3 separate regions of the Homo sapiens genome follow, and regions 2 and 3 are each linked to region 1. The links come from fine-mapping of genetic effects on gene expression. A gene starts in region 1. Each other region holds a variant in brackets. All regions are shown on one strand. Distances are between the middles of the regions. Region 1 holds the start of AKR7A3 (aldo-keto reductase family 7 member A3). Region 2 overlaps EMC1 (ER membrane protein complex subunit 1). Region 3 holds the start of NBL1 (NBL1, DAN family BMP antagonist).

What was found. PIP is the estimated chance that this variant, and not a neighbour inherited with it, causes the effect.
Region 2: its variant is fine-mapped to the expression of AKR7A3 in ovary (GTEx, PIP 0.97).
Region 3: its variant is fine-mapped to the expression of AKR7A3 in subcutaneous fat (GTEx, PIP 0.95).

What each region holds. Positions count from the first base shown.
Region 1 is chr1:19,284,033-19,292,207 of GRCh38, reverse strand. It overlaps AKR7A3 (aldo-keto reductase family 7 member A3), which reads left to right and starts at 3,438. Exons shown (of 7, transcript NM_012067.3): 1 at 3,438-3,712; 2 at 5,836-6,023; 3 at 6,216-6,320; 4 at 7,094-7,190; 5 at 7,423-7,522; 6 at 8,083-8,175. The coding sequence starts at 3,499. LOC124903867 (a long non-coding RNA gene) reads right to left here and starts at 4,148. Exons shown (of 3, transcript XR_007065521.1): 1 at 3,848-4,148. RefSeq lists enhancers at 2,561-3,382, 3,383-4,205, 7,706-8,175.
Region 2 is chr1:19,223,223-19,231,397 of GRCh38, reverse strand. It overlaps EMC1 (ER membrane protein complex subunit 1), which reads left to right. Exons shown (of 23, transcript NM_015047.3): 16 at 1-137; 17 at 435-554; 18 at 3,948-4,085; 19 at 7,829-8,002. The region is part of intron 1 of EMC1-AS1 (EMC1 antisense RNA 1); the gene reads right to left. Among named protein-coding and RNA genes, the nearest start is that of EMC1-AS1, 17 kb to the right of the region's middle. The variant A/G (reference allele first, on the strand shown) is at 4,778.
Region 3 is chr1:19,637,967-19,646,141 of GRCh38, reverse strand. All of the region lies in intron 1 of MICOS10-NBL1 (MICOS10-NBL1 readthrough), which reads right to left. NBL1 (NBL1, DAN family BMP antagonist) reads right to left here and starts at 1,831. Exons shown (of 4, transcript NM_005380.8): 1 at 1,696-1,831. RefSeq lists a silencer at 1,746-2,085 and an enhancer at 1,984-2,819. The variant G/A (reference allele first, on the strand shown) is at 4,731.

The DNA of each region.
Region 1 (8,175 bases):
AATTTGTAGTGGTGTCTCTTCTGCTCTTTCTGGTGTGGTTAATCTGTGTATTCTCTCTTTTATTCCTGATCAGTCTAGCCAGAGGTTTATCAACTTTAGCGATGTGTTTATAGAACTACTTCTGGTTTTACTGACTTTTGCTGATGTTTTTGTTTTATATTTCATTTATTTTGGCTTTTTTTTTTCTTTGAGATGGAGTCTTGCTCTGTTTCCCAGGCTGGCGTGCAGAGGAGTGATCTTGGCTCACTGCAGCTTCTGCCTCCCGGGTTCAAACGATTCTCCCACATCAGCCTATTTTGGCTATTATTTTTATTATTTCCTTTCTTCTGCTAATTTTGGTTTTACTTGACTCTTCCTTTTGTGGTTTCTTAAAGTACAAGCCTCGGCCGGTGCAGTGGCTCACACCTGTAATCCCAGCACTTTGGGAGGCTGAGGCGAGAGGATCCCTTGAAGCCAGGAGTTCAAGACCAGCCTGGCAAACATGGTGAGACCCCTTCTCTACTAAAAATACAAAAATTAGCCGGGCATGGTGGTGCATGCCTGTAATTCCAACTACTCAGGAAACTGGGACATGAGAATTGATTGAACCCAGGAGGCTGAGGTTGCAGGGAGCTGAGATTGCACCACTGCTCTCCAGCCTGTGTGACAGAGTGAGACTGTGTCTCAAAAAAAAAAAAAAAAAAAAGTAAATGCTTACATTATTGATCTGAAATATTTCTTCTTTTGTAATATGTCAAAGTGGTGCTATAAATTTCCCTCATAGCACTACTGTGGCTGCATCTCAGAAAATTTGATATGTCCTGTTTTTACTTTCATTCAGTTCAAAATATGATCTAATTTTCCTTGTGATTACATATTTGACCCATGGGTTATTTAATTTCTAAATATGTGGGGATTTTCCAGATATCATTCCATTATTATTTTCTATTTTTCCTTTTTCTTCTATTTGTTAACTTATTTACTTATTTTCAGTTCCCTCTCAGGCTCTAAATTCTGTTATTCTTTTCTTTTCTTTTCTTTTTTTCTTTCTTTCTTTTTTTTTTTTTTTTGAGGTAGAGTCTTTCTCTGTCACCCAGGCTGGAGTGCAGTGGTGCGATCTTGGCTCACTGCAACCTCCGCCTCCCAGGTTTAAGCAATTCTCCTGCCTCAGCCTCCTGAGTAGCTGGGATTACAGGCACACACCACAATGCTCGGCTAATTTTTTTGTATTTTTAGTAGAGATGGGGTTTCACCATATTGGACAGGCTGGTCTTGAACTTCTGACCTCAAGTGATCTGCCCACCTTGGCCTCCCAAAGTGCTGGGATTAAAGGTGTGAGCCACCGCACCCAGCCTGTGTTATTATTTTCTAGTTTAATTCCATCGTGTTCAGAGATGTACTTTGTATGATTGGAATCCTTTCAAATTTATTTATTTATTTATTTATTTATTTTTAATATGGAGTCTCACTCTGTTGCCCAAGCTAGAGTGCAATGGCCTGATCTCGGCTTACTGCACTCTCCACCAACCAGGTTTAAGTGATTCTCCTGCCTCAGCCTCCTGAGTAGCTGAGATTACAGGGGCACGCCACCACGCCTAGCTAATTTTTGTATTTTTAGTGGAGACGGGGTTTCACTGTGTTGGCCAGGCTGGTCTCAAACTCCTGACCTCAGTTAATCCACATGCCTTGGCCTCCCAAAGTGCTGGGATTACAGGCGTGAACCACCGCTCCCAGCCTCTTTTACATTTATTAAGACTTGTTTTATGCCTCCAAATATGGTATATCTTGGTGGATGGGCACTTGAAAAGAATGCATATCCTGCTGTTGTTGGATATTCTATTCATGTTGTTTATGTGGAATTGGTTCATAGCATTGAGTCTTGTATACCTTTACGGAGTTTCCGTAAATTATGACTGATAACTGTTCTACAACTATTGAGAATGGTGTGTTGAAATCTCCAATTATAATTTTGTATTTATCTACTTGTTCTTTAGTTCCATTATTGTTTTTCATGTATTTTGATGATCTATGCTTAGGTGCATATATATTTAGAATTATATCTTCTTTATTAATTGACCTCTTTGTCATTATGGTATGTCCCTCTTTGTCTTTGGTAGTTGTTGTTGTTGTTGCTGTTTTGAGACAGGGTCTCAATCTGCAGCTTCGACCTCCCAGGCGTAGATGATTCTCCCACCTCTGCCTCCCAAGTAACTGGGACCACAGGTGCATGCTACCACAATTTGATAATTTTTAAAATTTTGTTGTAGCGATAAGATCTCCCTGTGTTGCCCAGGCTAGTCTCAAACTCCTGGACTTAAGCAATCCTCCCTTCTCAGGCTCCCAAAGTGCTAACATTACAGGTGTGGGCTAGTATGTCACCCACTGTGTGGGCCAGTATTCTTTGTTTTGCAATCTACTTTGTCTGATATTCACTTAGCCATTCCAACTTCTTAAAATTTAGTTTTGTCAGTGTATGTCTTTTCCCATCTTTTTGCTCTTAAACTATCTCTGCTTTTATATTTGAATAGCTTTCTGGTATTTACCATATAGTTTGGTTTTGCTTTTTTATCCATTCTAACAATCACTGCCTTTTACTTGTGAGCATTTACATCATTTATATTTATGTAATTATTGATATGATTGGGTTTAAATCAATTTTGCTATTGGTTTTTCATTTGTTCCATCTGTCTATTGGTCTTTTTTTTTCTTTTGTATTTGGAGACAGATTTGCCCTCTGTCACCCAGGGTGGAGTGCAGTAGAGCTATCACAGCTCACTGCCGCTGGGCACTGGTCCATTTTTCTATCTTTTTTTTTTTCTTTTGAGACAGGGCCTCCCTATGTTGCCCAGGCTGGGTTCAAACTCCTGGGCTCAAGTGATCCTCCTGCCTTGATCTCTCAAAGTGTTGGCATTACAGGCGTTAAGTCACCAGAGCCAGTCAGTTTTTTTTCACTTAGGTACAGAATTCAATGCCAACAGTTCTTTTCTTTCAACACTTTAACCATGTCACTCCATGGGGACGCTGTCTTGAGCCTTTGGTAAGCCTCATTCTCCAGGACCACACGGCAGGCGCGACAGCCCTAGGTCCACCCCACCCCGTAAGCGCTCCCTCCGGGAGGAGACAGAAACCCAGGACAGCTCCGGGGCAAGGCCGAGGAAGGAGGGACGACGGGGCAGGGAGGCCCGAAGAGTCCCCGCCTTTTGGGATAGTCGCCACCCTTGGACCCCCTCACCCTTGGGGACGTTGAGGAGTGTTAAAATCTCCAAGACGCGAGTCACCGGTACGAAGCCACAGCCATTTCGCTGCTTGCTCGGTGCAAGTGCAGAAGGTCCTAGTAGCCGAGCGTGGAGTCGAGCTCGTGGGCGGCGTCGGGCACCTTCGGCCGCGCCCTCAGCTGCACCCGCCGGTGGGCGGGGCCCGAGCCCGTCTCTAAAGCCACGAGGCCGCCCGCTCCGAGCCTGGTGCTTCCGACCGCTGCGCGCGGCTCCTGGGCTGTCACAGTCTCCCGTTGCCGCCGTCATGTCCCGGCAGCTGTCGCGGGCCCGGCCAGCCACGGTGCTGGGCGCCATGGAGATGGGGCGCCGCATGGACGCGCCCACCAGCGCCGCAGTCACGCGCGCCTTCCTGGAGCGCGGCCACACCGAGATAGACACGGCCTTCGTGTACAGCGAGGGCCAGTCCGAGACCATCCTTGGCGGCCTGGGGCTCCGGCTGGGCGGCAGCGACTGCAGAGGTAACAGTGGCCCCTGATCCTCCCCCTGCACGGTGCAGAGCTGAGCCTGTCCACAGCCGTGTACCGCCCCGCTCTCCCTGGCCCCGGGGCAGCACCCAAAGTTTTGTCCCCCCCACCGCCCCCACCCCTGTTCACCTCGCAGCCTTGGGAACACCAGGCTCCTTAGGCACGTCTAGCTCCGGACAACTTTTCTCTCGTCTTCTCTTCTGTTCGTCTCTCTTCTCTTCCGGGAGGTAGCCAGCACCCTCACTGACGCCTGGATGACTTGGTCTTGCCTGGAATGACTTGGCTAGCCCCTCTCTGGAGCACAAAAAACACTGGGATCTGGCATTGTGCAGCTCCTGTCCCCACCTGTGCCCTCCAGGTGCCCTTGACGGGCCTGATCTGCAGAAATTCTGTTCTTACCGCCTGGCACTCCCTGGCACAGTCCAAAATCAGAGTTTGGACCCAGCACACTATCTGCTTCCTCCTTTGCACATGCCAGCCTGCTCGGGGCCCCGGACTTTGCTCTGAGTACCTTGTGGTACTCACAAGGGCACCTCACAAGGGTGGCAGTGCCCGGAAGCCTTGGCAGCTCCCTCAGGGGGATGAGGGATTGGGGTGGTACAGAGTCTCACTGCCCTCTCTGTGGGAGGCTCTGTCGGAGGCTATTGGAGAGAAATGGACACTAACCCACTCCAGGAAGCTCCAGTTCTAGAGATGGCTGGGGAGCCCAGAGTGACCCCTTCCTGGGAGGGACCCCGTGAAGAAAGAATGGATAGGAGTTTGCCAGGAAGAGTACAAGGGGCAAGGGCGTCAGGGCAGTGGGCATGGGTGTGGAAAGGCAAATGTGTTTTGGCAATGCCGCGGGTGCTGGAGGAGGCAGGTGTGGCCGGAGGGGAGGATGTGTGTATAGGGGCAGGAGGAGCCGCCCTCAGTCTGATGCCATTTGCAGTGCTTAGGCCGATGCCTGGCAGGCACATAGTGAGGGCTGGGAAATGTTAGCTGTTTGTTTGTTCTTAGTATTAGCACCATTTGCCTCCTTCCACTGAGTGTCTGAGTGGAGTCTTATTTCTCCTCTGATTCACCACATGGTAGATCCAGAACGAACCTGGCCTGTGCGTGCATCCCAGTGCCACGCTCTTTCTAGATCACCCGGCTGCCACTCAGTGAGAGCTCTAACCATATTTCTGATTTTTTTTTTTTTTTTGAGACAGGGTCTTGCTTTTTTGCCCAGGCTGGAGTGGAGTGGTGCGATAGGGCTCATTGCAGCTTTGACCTCTCAGGGCTCAAGCCATCCTCCCACCTCAGTCTCCTGAGTAGCTGGGACTACTACAGTAGCACCACACCCGGCTAATTTTTTGTATTATTCATTGAAACTGGAGTCTCACTTTGTTGCCCAGGCTGGTCTTAAACCCCTGAGCTCAAGTGATCCTCCTGCTCTGGCCTCCCAAAGTGCTGAGATTACAGGTGTGAGCCACCACAGATCTGTACCCTCTGCCTGGCCCTTATTTCTGATTTTTTTTTCTTTCCTTTTTTAATCCTTCTTTGTCTTCTGTCTGAGTCCAAGGTTGGCTGGCGAAAGTCCTCAGATCTGATCTGAAGTTAAATTCAATTGAGAAGCAGAGGGGTGGTGGTGGAATGGAAAAATTCCATATGAATAGTTCCTCAAACCTGCTCTTTGCTAGGCCTCAAGGGCTCCAGTGACTGCCCTCCTGCCAGCCTAGGTGACTTTCTAAGTGTGAAAAGTGGGAAGAGGACTCTCCACTCACCTGTTAGTCCAGTTCACTAGGAACTAAGATTCTTTTTTTTTGTTGTTTGTTTTGTTTGTTTGTTTGTTTTTTGAGAAGTCTCACTCTGTGAGACATTGTGCTGTGGCACAATCTCGGCTCACTGCAACCTCCGCCTCCCGGGTTCAAGCAATTCTCCTGCCTCAGACTCCGGACTAGCTGGGGACTACAGGCGGGCTCCACTATGCCCAGCTAATTTTTGTGTTTTTATTAGAGATGGGGTTTCACCATGTTGGTCCAGCTGGTCTTGAACTCCTGACCTTCTGATTTGCCTGCCTCAGTCTCCCAAAGTGCTGGGATTACAGGCATGAGCCACGGCGCCTGGCCCTGAATTTCATTTCTCTTTCCTCTCAGTGAAAATTGATACCAAGGCCATTCCACTGTTTGGGAACTCCCTGAAGCCTGACAGTCTCCGGTTCCAGCTGGAGACGTCACTGAAGCGGCTGCAGTGTCCCCGAGTGGACCTCTTCTACCTGCATATGCCAGACCACAGCACCCCGGTGGAAGAGACACTGCGTGCCTGCCACCAGCTGCACCAGGAGGTGAGGGGACCCCTGAGCTCTGGGAGGTGGTCCACTGCTGCTCTCCTTATCCTGATCCTAATGGTGAGAGCAGAGGCACCAGGGCTGTTCCAGGGTGGAGCAGGGAACAGCCCAACTCCCAGGGGCCCCACCCTGGCCTCCCTTTCCTGGTCTGGGCTGCACTATGTTCTGACTGGAGCCTCACCTGAGCAGGGCAAGTTCGTGGAGCTTGGCCTCTCCAACTATGCAGCCTGGGAAGTGGCCGAGATCTGTACCCTCTGCAAGAGCAACGGCTGGATCCTGCCCACTGTGTACCAGGTGAGAGCCAGGGCTGCAGAGGCCAAGGTCTCCAGAACTCCTGCTCATCCTGGGCTGTCTTTGCCCCTCTGACTGCCCCCTGTGCCCTCTGCATAGCAGCCACTCCCCTGCTGAAAGCCTGCAGATGGCTCCCAGGTACCCTCAGGATGCCATTCAAGCTCCTCAGGCTGGCCACTGGGCATCTGCTTCCTTCCTGCCTATCTGTGCACCTTGGACCCTTCCTTCCCTACCTTCCCCTGCACTCAGCCTGGAACAAGCCCTTCCCCCACCACCGCCCCTTCCGTGAGAGAATGGTTCAGGTCTCACATACGTGTCTCTTCCTCTGGAAGCCTTTCTAGATGGGCCCAGAAGACCCTGAGACCTCAGGTCCTTGTTTACCTCCTCATGATTCATTGCACAAATATTTGCACACCTGCTTGGTGCCAGGCACTGGTCACAGAACTTTCTAGTCTATTATGATTGCCTCATGACTTGATTATAACTGTTTATACTTGACCTTATTATAAAACCTTGAGGGAAGGGACCCTGTCCTTTTGGCTTAAGAATCTAAATCTGACAACCAGCCCATAGTTGGTGCTCATGAAAGTTGGCAGAATGAATGAATTTTCCATGGGCATAAGCTTCTTTCACCAGCACCAGTTAGAATAAGTATACGCCCAGACGGTTAAAGTCCTAGAATTGTTAAGGTCTGAAATAAGGGTTCTGGAAGGGTAATTTTGAAGTCTCTTCTTTTGACACATCCACCCTCTCCCCCGGGGCCCCTCTCCTTACAGGGCATGTACAATGCCATCACCCGGCAGGTGGAAACGGAGCTCTTCCCCTGCCTCAGGCACTTTGGACTGAGGTTCTATGCCTTCAACCCTCTGGCTGGTACGTGGAGCATTCCTGGCCCTGTCTCAGCCTATTCCCGACCCACAGATGCCCAGCCCAGGACCTGGGAAGCAAGGAGGGTTTGACAAACTTTGACCTCTGAGGTCAAAGACGTAAAGGCTGCATCTTCAGCCCTCCTGGGTCCCTGCCCCTCCCCTAGACCAGAGCCCTGAGGGATGTGGCAGCTTCTGGGGCACTCTAGGCCCCGGGGCTGATTGCTGCTTTCCCTCAGGGGGCCTGCTGACCGGCAAGTACAAGTATGAGGACAAGAATGGGAAACAGCCCGTGGGCCGCTTCTTTGGGAATACCTGGGCAGAGATGTACAGGAATCGGTAAGCTGTGGGTGCTTGGTGTGGATGGCTGGGGTGGGGTCAGCTTTATGTGGAATGAAGTCCTGGGCTGCTCCTGGGGTAAGGCCTTTCCTCGCTGCTGCACCTACTCCCCTGAATTTCTTCGGGAATTTCCAAACCCTCCATCGGTTTTCTTGTTGTCTTGGGACCTCCAGGAGGAAAGGAGACTCCCTGGACCTCGGGGTCTTGAAGTCGTTGCTCTTTCCTGAGCAATCACCTGCTAGGAAGGAAAGAAGGAGCTCTGGAGGGAGGTCCAGGAGGCCTGGGGCTGAGTCCTGACCCATCTTAGCGGCCTTTGTGTCCCTAAGGAAAATAAGAGCAGGCTGATGAGTCCTCAGGAATAAAGATTTGTTGAGGTCTCTGCTGAGGGGCCCAGCATCCTGAGTGGTTCTCTTGCCCAGCAAAGTGGGAGACCCATGGCTAGAGAGAACACCTGCCCCTCAGGGCTGCAGGGTGTGGGGTGGGACAGTGGCCCTGGTTGGCTCTTTGGTTGTGGCTCCCAATGTGGCCCTGACACCTGTGCCACCGTCCCCCCTTCCCAGCTACTGGAAGGAGCACCACTTTGAGGGCATTGCCCTGGTGGAGAAGGCCCTGCAGGCCGCGTATGGCGCCAGCGCCCCCAGCATGACCTCGGC
Region 2 (8,175 bases), 61 kb after region 1:
TCTTCAATCCCATTTTTGGGAAGTGGAGTCAGGTAGCTCCCCCAGTGCTGAAGCGCCCCATCTTGCAGTCCTTGCTTCTCCCAGTCATGGATCAAGACTACGCCAAGGTGTTGCTGTTGATAGATGATGAATACAAGGTACTGTCTTCAGAGGGGATGGAGAACATGCTAGCGGAGTCCGGTTTGGGGCCAGGTGGTCAAACACAGCGGCCCGGAGATGGAGTGCTCTCTGCACCCAGCACGTGTTTGGGCTCTAAGGCCATCCCGAAGAGAAATGATGGCTGTGTCTGCATTTGTGAAAACTCAGGTTCTTAACAGAACTGAATGTAAACCCTAAACTGAGTTCAAATCAACTGATTTGCAGTTTTATTCTTAAGGCTCTCTTTGATGGGGAAATTTCCTAACTCTTTCCTTGGGCTCTCTGGGTTTTTCAAGGTCACAGCTTTTCCAGCCACTCGGAATGTCTTGCGACAGCTACATGAGCTTGCCCCTTCCATCTTCTTCTATTTGGTGGATGCAGAGCAGGGACGGCTGTGTGGATATCGGCTTCGAAAGGTAGGAAGGCATGTCCTGGCACAACCCTTTGTGGATGAGATGCAGGTGTTTCCTGGCCATTTGGCTAAGAAGTGAATTATGCTACTCATTCTACTGTAAACTTAGATTAGCATAATCCTGATGTCTGATACAAAGTCAATCATTTGTTCATATTTGTTGGGCAGCTACTACATGGCAGATACGGTTCTAGGTGCTGTGGATGGAGTGGTGCACAGTAGAACAAATCTCTGCCCTTGTGGAGCTTTCATTCCACATTCTTTTTCTTTTTTTTTTTGAGATGGAGTCTTGCACTGTCGCCCGGGCTGGAGTGCAGTGGTGCGATCTCGGCTCACTGCAACCTCTGCCTCCTTGGTTCAAGCGATTCTCCTGCCTCAGACACCCAAGTAGCTGGGATTACAGGCGTGCGCCACCGCGCCCGGCTAATTTTTTGTATTTTTAGTAGAGACAGGGCTTTGCTGTGTTGGCCAGGATGGTCTCAAACTCCTGACCTTGTGATCCACCTGCCTCAGCCTCCCAAAGTGCTGGGATTACAGGCGTGAGCCACCGCGCCTGGCCCCATTATTTTTCTATAGCAGAGAGATGGGACTTTTTTTCCATTCTTGGGAGGGTAGAAGGTAGGAATGTGGGTTGAGTAATAAGTTGTACTTTTATATGAAGATGATGTTGACCAACTCGTGATGGAATGTGTGCTTTGAATTTTATTTCTAGAAAGGGGGTCAGTTTGCTTTAATCCTCACATACTTGAGACCAACTCTTGTAAACAGTAATACACGCTGGCTGTGAAGTCCAGCTCTGAAGTTCACGAGGGGCTGGCATGGCCTTGTTAGCAGGACTGTTTGGAGAAGTACTCTGTGGTGTGTACTCACAAACAGCTCTCCCATCCTGTCCTGTAAGGCCTTTTGAGAGGCATAGAGTTTAACCAATTTGCTAGATTGGAAGTCTAGGTTTGTCACTTACTAACTTTGTGACCTTGGGCTCTGGTCTTCTGTTTTCTTATCTGTAAAATAAGGTGATAAGTACCTGTCTCATAAGGTTGTTGTGAGAATTCAACACATAAATCACATAAAACTGCCTGGCACATGGTAAATGCCATCTGAGTTGGAGGTGCTGTTGTTTTGAAAATGCAGCGCCCTTTTGTGACATTTGTAACAGCTAACCTTAGCATAAACAGCACTGGAAATGGTCTGCCCAGAAGACACATCCTTTACCCTTGTGAATGAAAACATAAATAAATAAAATCATCCTTCTGAGTTAATAAAAAGAGGACCTTGAAAGAGACAGTTTTGTAGATTCAGGGGAGTGAACTGGAGTGTGGGTGTCATGAATCTGGAGTCCTGAGGACATCATCTGAGTGAACAATGACCAAGGAAGACAAAGGAGGCAGAGCTGTCTGTGGGAAGTGAGCCAGCTGTGTGCGCGAGTCCGGGACCACAAGGGAGTGTGCTGCCTTTGCCCTCACTTGGTGACCTTCCTCTCTGGGGATGTTTTAGTGAGTTCTTATGTTTTCAAAGAAGGTTGTGGCAATGAAGGCTTATTATTAATAATTTTCACTATTTTAAAAATTTAGGTAATACATTGAGTATATTCTCATTGTAAAAGAGTCCATTGATACAGAGAGGTGAACAAGCAAAATGTGAACAGACCCTTGTAGCCCCATTCCCAGCGGTCTTCCCCTCCCCAGGTGGAAAGCCTGTCAGCAGTTTGCTGTGCCTCTTTCTACTGTCCTTGTGTATTTATGATTCCCTATCAACAGCTGTGTGGACACACGTGTGTGGCTCATACTTTATTTATTTTTTTTTAGAGACAGAGTCTCGCTCTGTCACCCAGGCTGGAGTGCAGGGGCGCAGTCTCAGCTCACTGCAACCTCTGCCTCCTGGTTTCAAGCGATTCTCCTGCCTCAGCTTCCCAAGACTACATGTGCACGCCACCATGCCTGGCTAATTTTTGTATTTTCAGTAGAGACGGGGTTTCACCATGTTGACCAGGCTGGTCTCAAACTCCTGACCTCAAGTGATCCTCCCGCCTCGGGCTCCGAAAGTGCTGGGATTACAGGTGTGAGCCACCACGCCCGGCCCATTTTATTTTTTTTTCTCATTCACATGCAATTGACCTATATTTATTCTTATGAAATTTGCTTTTTTTCATTTAATGGGTTTTCTACCTCATTGTTTTGTCAACTTCAGTTTTTTATTACAGAAAAATATTGACAAAAGTGCAAAATCATGAGGTATGGCTCAGTGAACCCTCACCAAGGGAATACACTTGTGTACCTGGTGACCACTTCAGGAAACAGAATAGCACCAGCTCCTAGAAGGCCCTTGTGCCCTTTGCCAGTAACTACCTCCTGTCTCCACCCCCAAGGGCTCCGCATAATTCCATAGGATGGATGTATAATAATGTATTTAACCATGAGTGTTTATTGGTTGGTTTCCTATGACCATAAACAATCATACACGAAATGTTTTGAGCTCCCTGTTAGCTTAGACATTCACTGCTGGCCCCAGTATACAGGGATCTTGGAGTTTAGTAATAAATGGTAAATTTTCCTTGCATATTTCCTACTCAGATAAACAACGGGATACTATTGAGCGTTCGCCTCCTTTCCTACTGGCTTTATTATCTTTTTTTTTTTTTTTTTGAGCCGGAGTTTCGCTCTTGTTGCCCAGGCTGGAGTGCAATGGTGCAGTCTCGGCTCACTGCAACCTCCACCTCCTGGGTTCAAGTGATTCTCTTGCCTCAGCCTCCTGAGTACCTGGGATTAAAAGCATGCGCCACCACACCCGGCTAATTTTGCATTTTTAGTAGAGATGTGGTTTCTCTATGTTGGTCAGGCTGGTCTCAAACTCCCGACCTCAGGTGATCCACCTGCCTCGGCCTCCCGAAGTGCTGGGATTACAGGTGTGAGCCACCACGCCCGGTCTAGTATCTATCTTAATCAAACCGAGAGTTCTGAAATTTCTTCATAAACTAGATCTCTATTGCTGTTTTTCTGGTTTATTTTTTGTTTTGAGTCTTGCTCTGTCACTCAGGCTGGAGTGCAGTGGCGTGATCTCAGCTCACTGCAGCCTCTGCCTCAGCCTCCCGAGTGGCTAGGATTATAGGTGCCTGCCACCACATCTGGCTAATTTTTTGTATGTTTAGTAGAGATGGGGTTTGGCCATGTTGGCCAGGTTGGTCTTGAACTCCTGACCTCAAGTGATCCGCCCGCCTTGGCCTCCCAAAGTGCTGGGATTACAAGAATGAGCCACTGCTCCTGGCTCATTTTTCTAGTTCTGATCTCTATTCCTTCCTGCACAAAGGCCTCAAATAATGAACTGTAGGATGTGTCTAACTCCAGCTGTTTCAGTTCTAAGTGTACCCTCCTGATTACAGGCTTTTTTGCCCCTGCCCTAGGATCTCACCACTGAGCTGAGTTGGGAGCTGACCATTCCCCCAGAAGTACAGCGGATCGTCAAGGTGAAGGGGAAACGCAGCAGTGAGCACGTTCATTCCCAGGGCCGTGTGATGGGGGACCGCAGTGTGCTCTACAAGGTACATACAGCCAGCTGTCTGGTCTACAGCAAGGGCTTTCGAATCAGGAAAACAAGGGCTTCAAGTCTGGCTGTAGGACTTGGTACATATATGACCTTGAGTAAGTCATTTAATCCCTTTGAGCCTTAATTTTTGTTTGTGAAATGGGGATAATATACCCTCCTCCTGGGCTTGTTGTGATGATCACATGGGATGTTCATGTCTAGCCCAGTGCCTAGCATATGGTAAGTAAGCAACAGATGTTAGCTCTTATTTTTTTGACTTTTTTTTTGTTTGTTTGTTTCCTGTGACAGAGTCTTGCTCTGTTGCCCAGGCTGGAGTGCAGTGATGCAGTCATGGCTCACTGCAGCTTCGTCCTCCTGGGCTTATGCAATCCTTTCACCTCAGTCTCCCAAGTAATTGGAACCACAGGCACATGTCATGCTAATTTTTTAAAAACGGCTGGGCTTGGTGGCTCATGCCAGTAATCCCAGCATTTTGAGAGGTCGAGGTGGGTGGATTACTTGAGTCCAGGAGTTTGAGGCCAGCTTGGGCAACATGGCTGAAACCTTGTCTTTACCACCCCCAAAAAAAAAAAACAAAAAAAACAATTAGCTGGGCATGGTGGTGCATGCCTGTGGTCTCAGCTACTCGGGAGGCTGAGGTAGGAGGATCACCTGAGCCTGGGGAGGTTGAGGCTACAGTGAGCTGCA[A/G]TTGTGCCGCTGCACTCCAGCCTGGGTGACAGAGTGAGACCCTGTCTCCAAACAAACAAAAAAAATTTTTTTTAAATTTTTTATTTTTGTAGAAGATAGAGATCAACCTAGGAAACATAGTAAAACCCTGTCTTCAAAAAAAAATTTTTTTTTAATTTTTTATTTTTATATTGACAGGGTCTCACTATGTTGCCTAGGTTGGTCTCTATCTCCTGGCCTCAAGCAGTTCTCTTACCTTAGCCTCCCAAAGTGTTGAGGTTAGAGACTTGAGCCACTGCGCCTAGCCCAGCTCTTATTACTAGTGGTAGTACTGATAGAGCATTCTGGGGTTAAACCATAGTCGAGCCATCAGAAACTCCATCTCTGTGATCCAACACTCTAGTTAGTGTTAAAGAGAGGGAGATTAAGGTGACTAGTGGGCTGCAAAACTGTTATGGGAGAGAATGTAATGATAGTAGTAATGCACATTAATTACACCCTCTGGTACAGCAGAGACTGAATTGGAGGGGGTGTCATAGAATAGAGATCACGGAACTTGACGGTAAAGCTGGATCACTAAGCATGAGCCAGTGCAACACAGTGCAAGCCTCTAGTTTGACTGTTAAGACTTGGCTCTGCCGTGGCCTAGCTGTTCATCTCTTAGGCTGCCTGAGCTTCAATTTTCCCCAGTATAATGGGGATAATAGCACCAACGTCAGAGGATTGTTTTGAAGATTAATGATAACATGTAAAGTGATTAGAATAGTGCCTGCCACATACTTAACATTATTATTAGTGCTATTGACTCTTTTTTTTTTTTTTTGAGACAGGGTCTTGCCATGTTGCCCAGGCTGGAGTGCAGTGGTGTGATCACAGCTCACTGCAGCTTTGACCTCCCGGGCTTAAGCAGTCCTCCCATCTCAGCCTCCTAAGCAGCTGGGACAACAGGTGCATGTCACCATGGCTTATTTTCTTTTCTTTCTTTTCTTTTTTTTTGAGATGGAGTCTTGCTCTTTCACCAGGCTGGAGTGCAGTGGCACGATCTTGGCTCACTGCAACCTCCACGTCCCAGGTTCAAGAGATTCTCCTGCCTCAGCCTCCCGAGTAGCTGGGACTACAAGCGCGCACCACCATGCCCAGCTAAATTTTGTATTTTTAGAGATGGGGTTTCACCATGTTGGCCAGGATGGTCTTGATCTCTTGATCTCGTGATCTGCCCGCCTTGGCCTCCCTAAGTGCTGGGATTACAGGCGGGAGCCACCGTGCCCAGGCACTTATTTTATTTTCTTTAGAGATGGGGTCTTGCTGTGTTGTTCAGATTGGTCTTAAACTCCTGGGCTCAAGCAATCCTCCCATCTTGGCCTCCCAAAGTGTTAGGATTACAGGCATGAGCCACCGCACCCGGCCAGCAGCAAGCAGTTTTTGAGTGCTAGCTGGATGCAGGCACTCATTTAGACACTGGGATATAAAATGGGCAAAACAGACAAAACTTCCTGACCTCGTGAGGCTTTCATCATAGTTGGGTGAGGCTAATAATAAAGAAAATAAATAGGTAAATTAGATAGTATATTAGAAAGTGACCAGTTCTATAGAGAAAAATAAAGCCGGGAAGAGGGAAAGCAGGTACAGTGTAAGTCGGGTGGCTAAGGAGGGGCTTAGTGAGAAAGTGGCACGGAGTGAGTGGACTTGAGTGAGGAAGTGAGTTGTGTGGGTAGCTGCGGGGAGAGCCTTCCAGAGAGAAAAGTCAAAGTGCTCCTGGTATGTGTGAGAAACAGCAAAGAAGACCAGGTAACTAGAAGATGATGAGTGAGGAGGCATGTCAGGCCTGCTGAGGGCAGAGGGCAACAGGGCCAGATCACAGGCCACCACCGTGGCCTTCACTTTGGAGCACGGTGAAGAGCCACTGGGAAGTTTTCAGCAGAGGAGTGACATCAGTGACTGAGATTCCACAGGCTCATTTGACCTAGATTAGACTGTAGAGGGGTGAGGAGGAAAGCAGACCATTTAGGCTGTGGGGTCATCCAGGTGCTGATGGTGGCTGGAGCTGGGCTGGTAGCATGGAGGTGGGAAGGAGGGATCAGGTTCTGGGTACTTTTGAAGGTAGAGCCAAGAGCAGGTATATGTGTGTTACAGAGAAAGGAGTCAAGGATAACTCGAGGCTTTAGGTCTGAGCCACTGATGTATGGAGTCGTGACTGGCTGGGGAGGAGAGAGGAGCAGATTTTAGGCAGGAGTTAGAACAGTTCAGCTTGGGCCATGTTAAGTTTCAGATGAAACATCTGAGAAAAGATACTGAGATAATTTCTTAGTGAAGTCTGGAGTTCAAAGGAGTATCTGGTTTGGATATATACATTGGGCATTGCCAACATCCATAAATGGTGTTCAAGCCATGAGATTGGCTTGAGATCACCACGAGGGTAAGTGTGACGGAAATGCTCAAGGCTTGAGAGCTTTCTGATGTGTTCCACCATGAAGAAACTGGGGAGATGTGGAAGAACCTCCAAAAGAGACTGAGAAGGAGAGGCCAGTAAAGTAGAAGGAGTGCTGGGCAGGGATGTTCTGGAAGCCAGGTGAGAAAATGTCGCAAGGAGGTAGTGATCACCTGCGTCACGTGGTACTAGTGGGTCAAGTAAGTTGAGGGCCAAGACTTAGCCACTGGATTTAGCGATGGGGAGGGGGGTGGTGACCCTCAGAAGAAAAATATCACTGCAGCATTTGTCCCTAGGTCAATGAGTGGGCAGACCTGGATTTTGTCTTGGGTTACCATTTGCTATCTGTGACTTGAAAAGCTGCTTAACTACTTTGGGACTTTTCTGCAAAATGTGGACCATAATAGCTACTCTGCAAGACTGTTTAAGGGATTAGATAAAATACAAGGTACCTGGCATGGCACCCAGTACCCAATGCACATAAAACAAGTGCAGTGATGAGAAATTCCAAACAGGAAGCTCTTTTCACCAGAAACCCTGATTCCTCTGCCAGGCTGGAGAGCTCCAGGTTGGTCTCACAGCACAGGAATGGAGTGTGTGATGAGTCGTCGTGGTTCTAAGGGAGGTTTTCTCTCTCTCTCCAGAGCCTGAACCCCAACCTGCTGGCCGTGGTGACAGAGAGCACAGACGCGCACCATGAGCGCACCTTTATTGGCATCTTCCTCATTGATGGCGTCACTGGGCGTATCATTCACTCCTCTGTGCAGAAGAAAGCCAAAGGCCCTGTCCATATCGTGCATTCAGAGAACTGGGTGGTGGTAAGCGGTCACTACCAGGGACCCAAGGTAGCTCCAGAGGTCTCCCTGCCTCCTGAGTCCTTTCCAGAAACCCAGTTGCTGCTTTGGTTTTCTTAGGATCTCAAATTCCCTGGATGGCAGCAAAGCGTGCCGGTTAGGGCACTGGGCTCAGGAATCAGATTGCCTAGGTTTAA
Region 3 (8,175 bases), 350 kb before region 1:
AGAGGGCGGACACACAGGGCCGACCCCGTGCCACCCAGGCCTGCCTGCATCTTCCAGCCCTGACCACCTCTGTGCCAGCCCCCAAACCCAGGCCACGGCCCTCCTTACCGCAGACCCTCCTGCCCGCAAACGAAAAACAGTCTCCAAAACAAATCCATGCTAATGAGCTGCTGCAGGGCCAGGCTGCACATCTGCTCAGCAGAAGTTCCACTGCAGACCTCACCAACAACCCTGCCCGCTCCGGCAGCCTCCGACCCTTGAGGTTGTGGGTGGGGGGAAGCAGCTAAACTCAGCCTGAAATTTCACTTTAAAATAATGAGGCGATATCCCTGGCCGATGCAGAACACCTACTCCCCTGTCCACCCCTCCAAAACACAGGCCCGGGAGAGAGGTCCAGCTTGCAGGGGTGGGTGGAGAGGGGTAGGGGTCACCGAGGAAACGCTGCAGCCTCGCCTTTTCTTTGGCCCCAACTCAAGGCAAACCACGCCCAAGCAGCCCCAGCATCTGGGGGAGTCTAGGGAGGCCCCATTCCGCAGTAACAAAGGGTGAGGGGCTCCTTGTTGACAAATTGCTTCCCCGCCAGCGCCCGGTCTTTGGCCTCCAGCCCTGACCTCTGTTTTCCTGGGGTGCCCCTAGTTACAGGCTGGTGGCGTCCAGCTTGGGGAGCGAGGGCCTCCGAAAGCCTGGAAGTGTGGCTTTCTCCCTTGATGCCCGCCAACCTCCGGCCACGCCAAGGCAGGCGGCTGCCCCCTTTGCCGCCGCTTGTAAACGATCAGAATCGCCCCGCCCTGGGAGCGGGCCGGGCAGGTGGCCCGCAGCAGGGCCTGTCGTCCAGCCGGCCTCGCGGGGGTGGAATTCTTAAGAAAACTGAGCCCCCGGAAAGGCTGGCTCTCCCTGCCCCAGACTCAATTCCAGGGAGATGACCCGGGCCAGGCCTCGGGGCCGGCGGGAGGCAGGGGGAGGGTTTGCCGCACCCGGTCTAGGAAACTATTCGTGAACCCCGCTGGGGGAAGGCGAGCCTCCGACACTGGGGGATTGTCTGGATCGGAGGGCGGGGGATCAGGGAGAGGCGCAGACACAGGGCGAGACCCCCACAGAGGGCAGCGCAGAGACAGAGAGAGGGAGAGAAAAGCCAGAGGCAGAGACACAAACGCGGGCAGCCGAACACGGAGGCAGGCGGGGAACGGAAAGAGACGGGCAGACCAGGGGAAAGTGAGCGGCGGAAACGGAGCGACGGAGAGACAGACACACGGACGTGGGGACCGAAGCAGAGGGGGCCGCGGGAGGCGGAAACGTCCAGAGCCGAGAGGCGCGGCGCGGCGAGGCCCGGGCACGGCCGGGGGACATGCGAGCCCGGCCCGCCCGGCCACGCATCTCCCTCCCTCGCTCCCTCTCTCCCCCGGCCGCGGAAACTCCGATCCAGAAACGGAACCCTGGGGCGAGTCTGGGGACGGGCTCCGGACGCGGCGGTGCCCCCCGGCCACCCCGTGCCGCGCCCACGTCCCCAGCGCCGGCGTCCGGAGGCGCCCGCCAGGTCCCCCAGGGCTCCTGAGCTCGGCGGCGGCGCCTCCACCCGGTGCCCGCGGCCGCCGGACGCGCCGGGGGACGCAGCTCCGGGCTGGGGGCGCGGCACTGCCCCCGCGGCCGAAGCCTCTGGAAGCCGGGCGCCCGCGTGCCGACCCGGGCGGGACTTACCGCGCGCGCCCGCCGGTCCTGCGGAGCTGGGTGCGGGGGTCGCGGGCCCGGGCGCCCCAGGAGGCTCGGCGAGGCGGCCGGCAGGGCGGGGGGCGGCCCCGCGACGCTCGGCTGGGCTGCGCTGCGCGCTGTCTGCGGCCCCGGGCGGGCGCGCGGCGCGGGGGAGCGGCTCCGACGTCAGGGTGGCTCCCTCCAAACAGGGCGCGAGGGCGGGGGCAGCGGGGAGGGCCGCGCGCAGAAAGAGCGGGCGGGCGCGCGCGGCCTCTCCCTCCGGGTGCGCAGGAGGGGGCGCCGCGGCGGCAGGGGCCCCGGGCCCTCTCCTGGCCCGCCCGCCCCGGGCTGAGCTTCGGCGCGCTCCGACGGCGTGGTGGGGCGGCCGGGACGCCTGGCCGGCGCCCGAGAGGCAGGGCAGCCCAGCCGGGCGCCCTGGCCCGTTCTTAAGCGCCCTCCCCGGGTTTCTCTGCGCTTCCACTCTCTCCGCCCGACTTTTACCGAGCCTGGGCCGTCAGGCCGTGCCAGGCCTCGGGGTGACAAAGATGGATGTGTCCTTTTTGTGGGCACCGGGCATTGCAGACTTGCCCCGAGAGTGGGGCGCCCCAGCCCGCCGCGTCCCGGCACCAGGAGTCCCCAGTTCTGCGGTGCACCTCATCCCGTCCGCTCCGGCATGCGACCCGGTTCAAGTCCGTGCTGTTGGTAGCCTGGGTTGCTCAGCCTTGCCTAGTGTTATCCTAGTGTCGCTCTCGGCCCCACGCCCTTGGCTTAAGCATCCCGAAAAGCCCCAGGGACTTATTAGGAACTAAAAAGCCAGCAAATGAACTCACTTCTCTGACTCCTGGGAAGAGTGGAGCTCCTGGCCCCAGCTTCCAGCCTCACCTCGGGGGTTCCTATCTAATCAGTGGGCACTTGGGTGGATTGCGGCCGTACCTTCTCTATTCTGTGTGCTTAACAACGGGGTGAGAAAATAACTTTGCTTCTGGAAAGTGGTGGCCCAGGGACACCACTGGGACACGATTGTAGGACTTGGGGATTTTGCTTTACAGCATAGTTACCTGTGTCCATGTGTTTTACCTAGCTTGGCTGGAAACTTCCAGATAGACACAGCCCTGCTTGTCTGACTCATGAGGTTGCCGGGCATCCTGGGTGGCTCCTAGTGGCCTGCTGGGAACTCCCTGGTGTACTCCAGCCTACTCGCACCCTCCACACCCAGCCTGCATCTGCGCCTCCTAGCTGTTGCCTGCGCCCTTCCCTCTGCCCGGAATTCCCTTCCCCTCCTTTCATCTCTGGCAAACATTCTTCCAGCTCCAGATTGGAAAGCCTTCCCAAGACCCTTTGGGAGCATCTCCCTCCTCCAGTGTGATCCTGGAGCACAGGATGAGAACTTCTGTTCATGTCAATTTCCCTCTAGAATAACTGTGTACATCTCTTGGGCAAACATTCTTCCAGCTCCAGATTGGAAAGCCTTCCCAAGACCCTCTGGGAGCATCTCCCTCCTCCAGTGTGATCCTGGAGCACAGGATGAGAACTTCTGTTCATGTCAATTTCCCTCTAGAATAGCTGTGTACATCTCTTTCCTCCATTAGACCTTGAGGGCAGGAATCGTGTTTATTTCAGTGTCTCCATTGCTTATGGGCAGGCCAGGTGAGATGTACAATGTATTTGGTTGAATGAAGTTGTTGTTGTTGTTGTTGTTGTTGTTATTATTATTATTATTAGAGACAGAATTTTGCTCTTGTTGCCCTGGCTGAAATGCAATGGCGTGATCTCGGCTCACTGCAACCTCTGCCTCCCAGGTTCCAGCAATTCTCAGCCTCCCGAGTAGCTGGGATTACAGACGCCCACCACCACGCCCAGCTAGTTTTTGTATTTTTAGTAGAGATGGGGTTTTGCCATGTTGCCCAGGCTGGTCTCCAACTCCTGGCCTCAAGTGATCCTCCCGCCTCAGCCTCCCAAAGTGTTGGGATTATAGGCATGAACCACCACGCCCAGCGAATAAAGTAATTATTATCCCCCATTAATGTAGCACAGATAGGTCTTCCCTTAATGGTAACTATGACCGTTATAATAGTTCACACATATTGAGCACCTTACCATGTGCCTCATCCCATTGCAAGCTGTTGCCACTCTCACAATAAACCTATGAGGTAAGTATTGTCTCTGTTTTAAAAGTGCCAGGCGCAGTGGCTCATGCTTGTAATCCCAGCACTTTGGGAGGCCAAGGCAGGAGGATCACTTGAGGTCAGGAGTTCGAGACCAGCCTGGCCAATATGGCGAAACCCTCTCTCTACTAAAAATACAAAAATCAGCCAGGTGTGGTGGCGTGTGCCTGTAGTCCCAGCTACTCGGGAGGCTGAGGCAGGAGAATCACTTGAACCTGAGAGGCGGAGGTTGCAGTGAGCCGAGATCGCACCACTGCACTCCAGCCTGGGAGGCAGAGTGAGACTCCATCTCAAATAAATAAATAAATAAACAAACAAACAAATAAAATAATAAAAGTGAAAAAAATCCCGAGGCTGGAGGATCACTTGATCCCAGGAGTTTGAGGCTGCAGTGAGCTATGATTGTGCCACTGTACTCCAGCCTGGACAACATTGCAGAAGGCTAATTGTGGAACCTAATGAGCTTGTCACTCCAGCAAGGCCTTGTCTCAAAAAAAAAAAAAAAAAGTGAAAAAAGGAACGTCAAGAGAAAGGTTAAGTAACTCGCCTAAAGTCACACAGTAAGAGCCCATGCCAGCTAGTGTCTGTTGGATAACTATATACCATGTACGGCAGAAACCAGCCTCACTGCACTGTACACAGTAGACACTCAGGAAATATTTACCATTTTGCAGCCAAAGCTTACCCCCGCCATCTTTCATGCAGACCCCGAGCAGGGTAGAAAGTAGAGTTCTACATTTTGTAAGAATCCACTCCCACATTGCAGAAAGCTAATTGTGGAGCCTGATGAGCTGGTCAGATCACACATAGAGCCAGGAGTAGAAGCCACAACTTCCAGCCAGTGCCCTTGACAGGGCAGCCCACCATCTCTCAAACACC[G/A]GGAGGTTCAAGAACAACACCAACCCCCTAATCAGGGACAAAGGGTTTGGAGTTGAGTCACCATCTGTCTGGTGACGGGAAAGCTACAGTGTGGGCAGGGGGCCTGGGAAGTAACTTGGTAGTAATATCTACCCATTTTGTGCCAGGCATTATGCTGGTCACTCTGTCTGCTTCATCTCCTCTAATCCTTACCACAGTCCCATCATTGTTCCCATTTTACAGGTAAGAAAAATCGAGGCACCAAAATGTGTCATTACCTGCTCAAGACCACATTGCTAGTGATTAACAAAGCCTGGACTTGAGCCCAGACCTGTCAACACCAAAGTCCATGCTTCCTTGCCCACCACACCCTCTCCACCCTCTCGGCTGCCTCAGTGCTCCTCCCCATCAGGCTGCAGCAGGGATGCTGCACTGAAGATGGACCCCAGGGGCCCCAGCGGGAAAGGCAGAACCTGTCACGTCAGAGTGTCCCAGCTCGAGCAGATGCACCTGGTTGGCAGTGGTGTTCCAGCTGCCCCTACAGGCCTGGCTGGCACAGGGCATGGGCCTGAGGCCAGAGCCTCCTGGCCCTGGGCCAGCCTCTTGGGGCCGAGGTAATGTGGGGCCCAGAGCTGGGGCTCAGGGCTAAAAGCCCCTCTCCCCAGCTCATTAGCAAACATCTGGGCTCAGGAAAATGACCGACCTGGAATGTGACTGAGCTGTGGGGAGCTGCTCTCTCCCAGAGTCCGGGAATGTGAGCTCCCTCCTGCAGGGCACGGACTCAGCCCAGCTGTTTCCTCTAATCCTGTCAGTCTGGCCTCAACGGGGGTCCAAACCTCTGCACTCTCGCTGGAGAAATAGAATGAAAACAAGCAAAAGGCCTGTCTTCCCAGTCCAGCCCACTGAACAGAGGGTTGGTACACAGTCCCTCTCTTTTTATGATAAAGATGAGAGCGTTCACACCTCCAGGTATGGAGCTGGGAGGAGCCATTCGGACTCATCAGGGGAGGCTCAGGGTTTACATTGTTCCTGCATCGCCCTCTGACTCTGTGCTAGTTGTTTCACACCTGGGCCTTGGTTTCCTTATCTGTAAAATGCAGTTAGTAGTGCTATGTACTCCATAGATTTGTTGTCTGGAGTCATTCATTTATCCAACAAATACTTATTGTGCCTGTTATGTGCCAGACATGCACAGAGGTGTTGAGGACACAACAACAGACTAGACCAATAAGGTCCCAGCCTCCAAGGAGCTTATGTTCTGCCACACCCAGGCAGATTGTGCAACAGATAAACAGATGAGTGGATCTCACATAACCAATGTGTTCTGAAGGTTCCAGGTTCAGTTGTTTAATATTTATTTAAAAGAGCCAGGCGTGATGGCTCACGCCTGCAATCCCAGCACTTTAGGAGGCCGAGTTGGGTGGATCATTTGAGGTCAGGAGTTCAAGACCAGCCTGGCCAACATGGTGAAACCCCGTCTCTAATAAAAAGACAAAAATTAGCCCGGTGTGGTGGTACGTGCCTGTAATCCCAGCTATTTGGGAGGCTAAGGCAGGATAATTGCTTGAACCTGGGAGGCGGAGGTTGCAGTGAACCGAGATCATGCCAGAGCACTCCAGCCTGGGTGATGGAGTGAGATTCTGTCTCGAAAAATAATCATCATAATAATATTTATTTAAAAGAAAAAAAGGAGAGGCCAGGCGTGGTGGCTCATGCCTGTAATCTCAGCACTTTGGGAGGCTGAGGCAGGTGGATCACCTGAGGTCAGGAGTTCAAGACCAGCCTGGCCAACACGGTGAAACCCCATCTCTACCAAAAATACAAAATTAGCTGGGTGTGGTGGTGCGTGCCTGTAATCCCAGCTACCTGGGAGGCAGAGGTTGCAGCGAGCTGAGATCGCACCATTGCACTCCAGCCTGGGTGACAGAGCGAGACTCTGTCTCCAGAAAAAAAAAAAGAAAAAAAGGAGAAAAAGTATTATGAACGAACTAAGCCAGAGGGGGCGATGTGATGGGGGAGGTATGAACTCACTGAGAAGCCTCAGAAAACGTCGCAAAGAGGTGACACTTAAGGTGAGATTATAATGAGATGGAGCAAGGATTCAAGGAGATAAATGGATGCAAAGCTCTCGGCACAGTTCCTGGAAAATAGCACGTGCTCCATAAAATGAAAGCTATTTCAGGGAGGTTTCATATATATAGCTCAGGAAAGGTGCTGGAGTCAGATGCCCTGGATCAAATCCAGGATTCAGCACAAAGCTTTCTCACCTTACTCCAGTAATGCATCTCTTGAGCCTCAGTTTCCTCATCTGGAAAACAGGAATTGTAATAGGACCCATCCCCAGGATCACCCAGAATTCACTGAGAGACGTGAATGTGAGGCACAGAGCCGGCACACGCTTGGCTCTCAGGAAGTGGTAGTTACTATGGTGGGTTGTTTGTTTGTCTGAGGTGGACTCTCGCTCTGTCACCCAGGTTGGAGTGCAGTGGCGCGATCTCCGCCCACTGCAACCTCCACCTCCCAGGCTCATGAGATCCTCCCACCTCAGCCTCCTGAATAGCTGGGACTACAGGCATGTGCCACTACGCTCGGCTAATTTTTGTATTTTTAGTAGAGATGGGGTTTTACCATGTTGGCCAGGCTGGTCTCAAACTCCTGACCTCAGGCAATCTGCCCACCTCGGCCACCCAAAGTGCTGGGATTATAGTCATGAGCCACTGAGCTCAGCTATATTATCCTTTTTCATAGAGGAAAAAAGGATTTGCCCAGATCCACTCAGCAAGTCAGCAGAACATCCAGGACCAGAAACAGGTGTTCTGACTTTGAGCCCATCCACCTGGGCTGTGTCCTCTAGCCTCTTCCTCCCTGCTGGTGGGCTCAGGAAACCTTGGGCCCCATTTTGGACTCAGAAGACTCAGAAGGAGAAGGTGGCCATGCACTGTGAGTTCCACAGTACGGAGCCTGTGCTGTCAAGGATTGCAGAGGGTCTTGGCCTGGACGGGAGAGCAGGAATGAGGCCCCAAGGACTCCATGGGTCCTTGGCCCCATGGAAAAATGTCAAATGTTCTTTGTAGGGTCAGATACAGTGGCTCATGCCTATAATCCCAGCACTTTGGGAGGTCGAGGCAGGAGGATCACTTGAATCCAAGAGTTCGAGACCAGCCTGGACAACATAGCAAGACCCTGTCTCTAAGAAAAAAAAGAAAAAAACTAAAAATTAGCCAGGTGTGGCGGCATGTGCCTGTAGTCCCAGCTACGTGGGAGGCTGAGGTTGGAGGATCTCTTGAGCCCAGGAGTTAGAGGCTGCAGTGAGCTATGATTTTACCACTGCACTCCAGCCTGGGTGACAGAGAAAGAACCTATCTCAATAAATAAATAAATAAACAAACAAAATAAAATAAAATAATAAAATACTATTTGTAGGTAGGGTGAGACACCAAGAATCAAGAAGGGAAATCAAGGCACT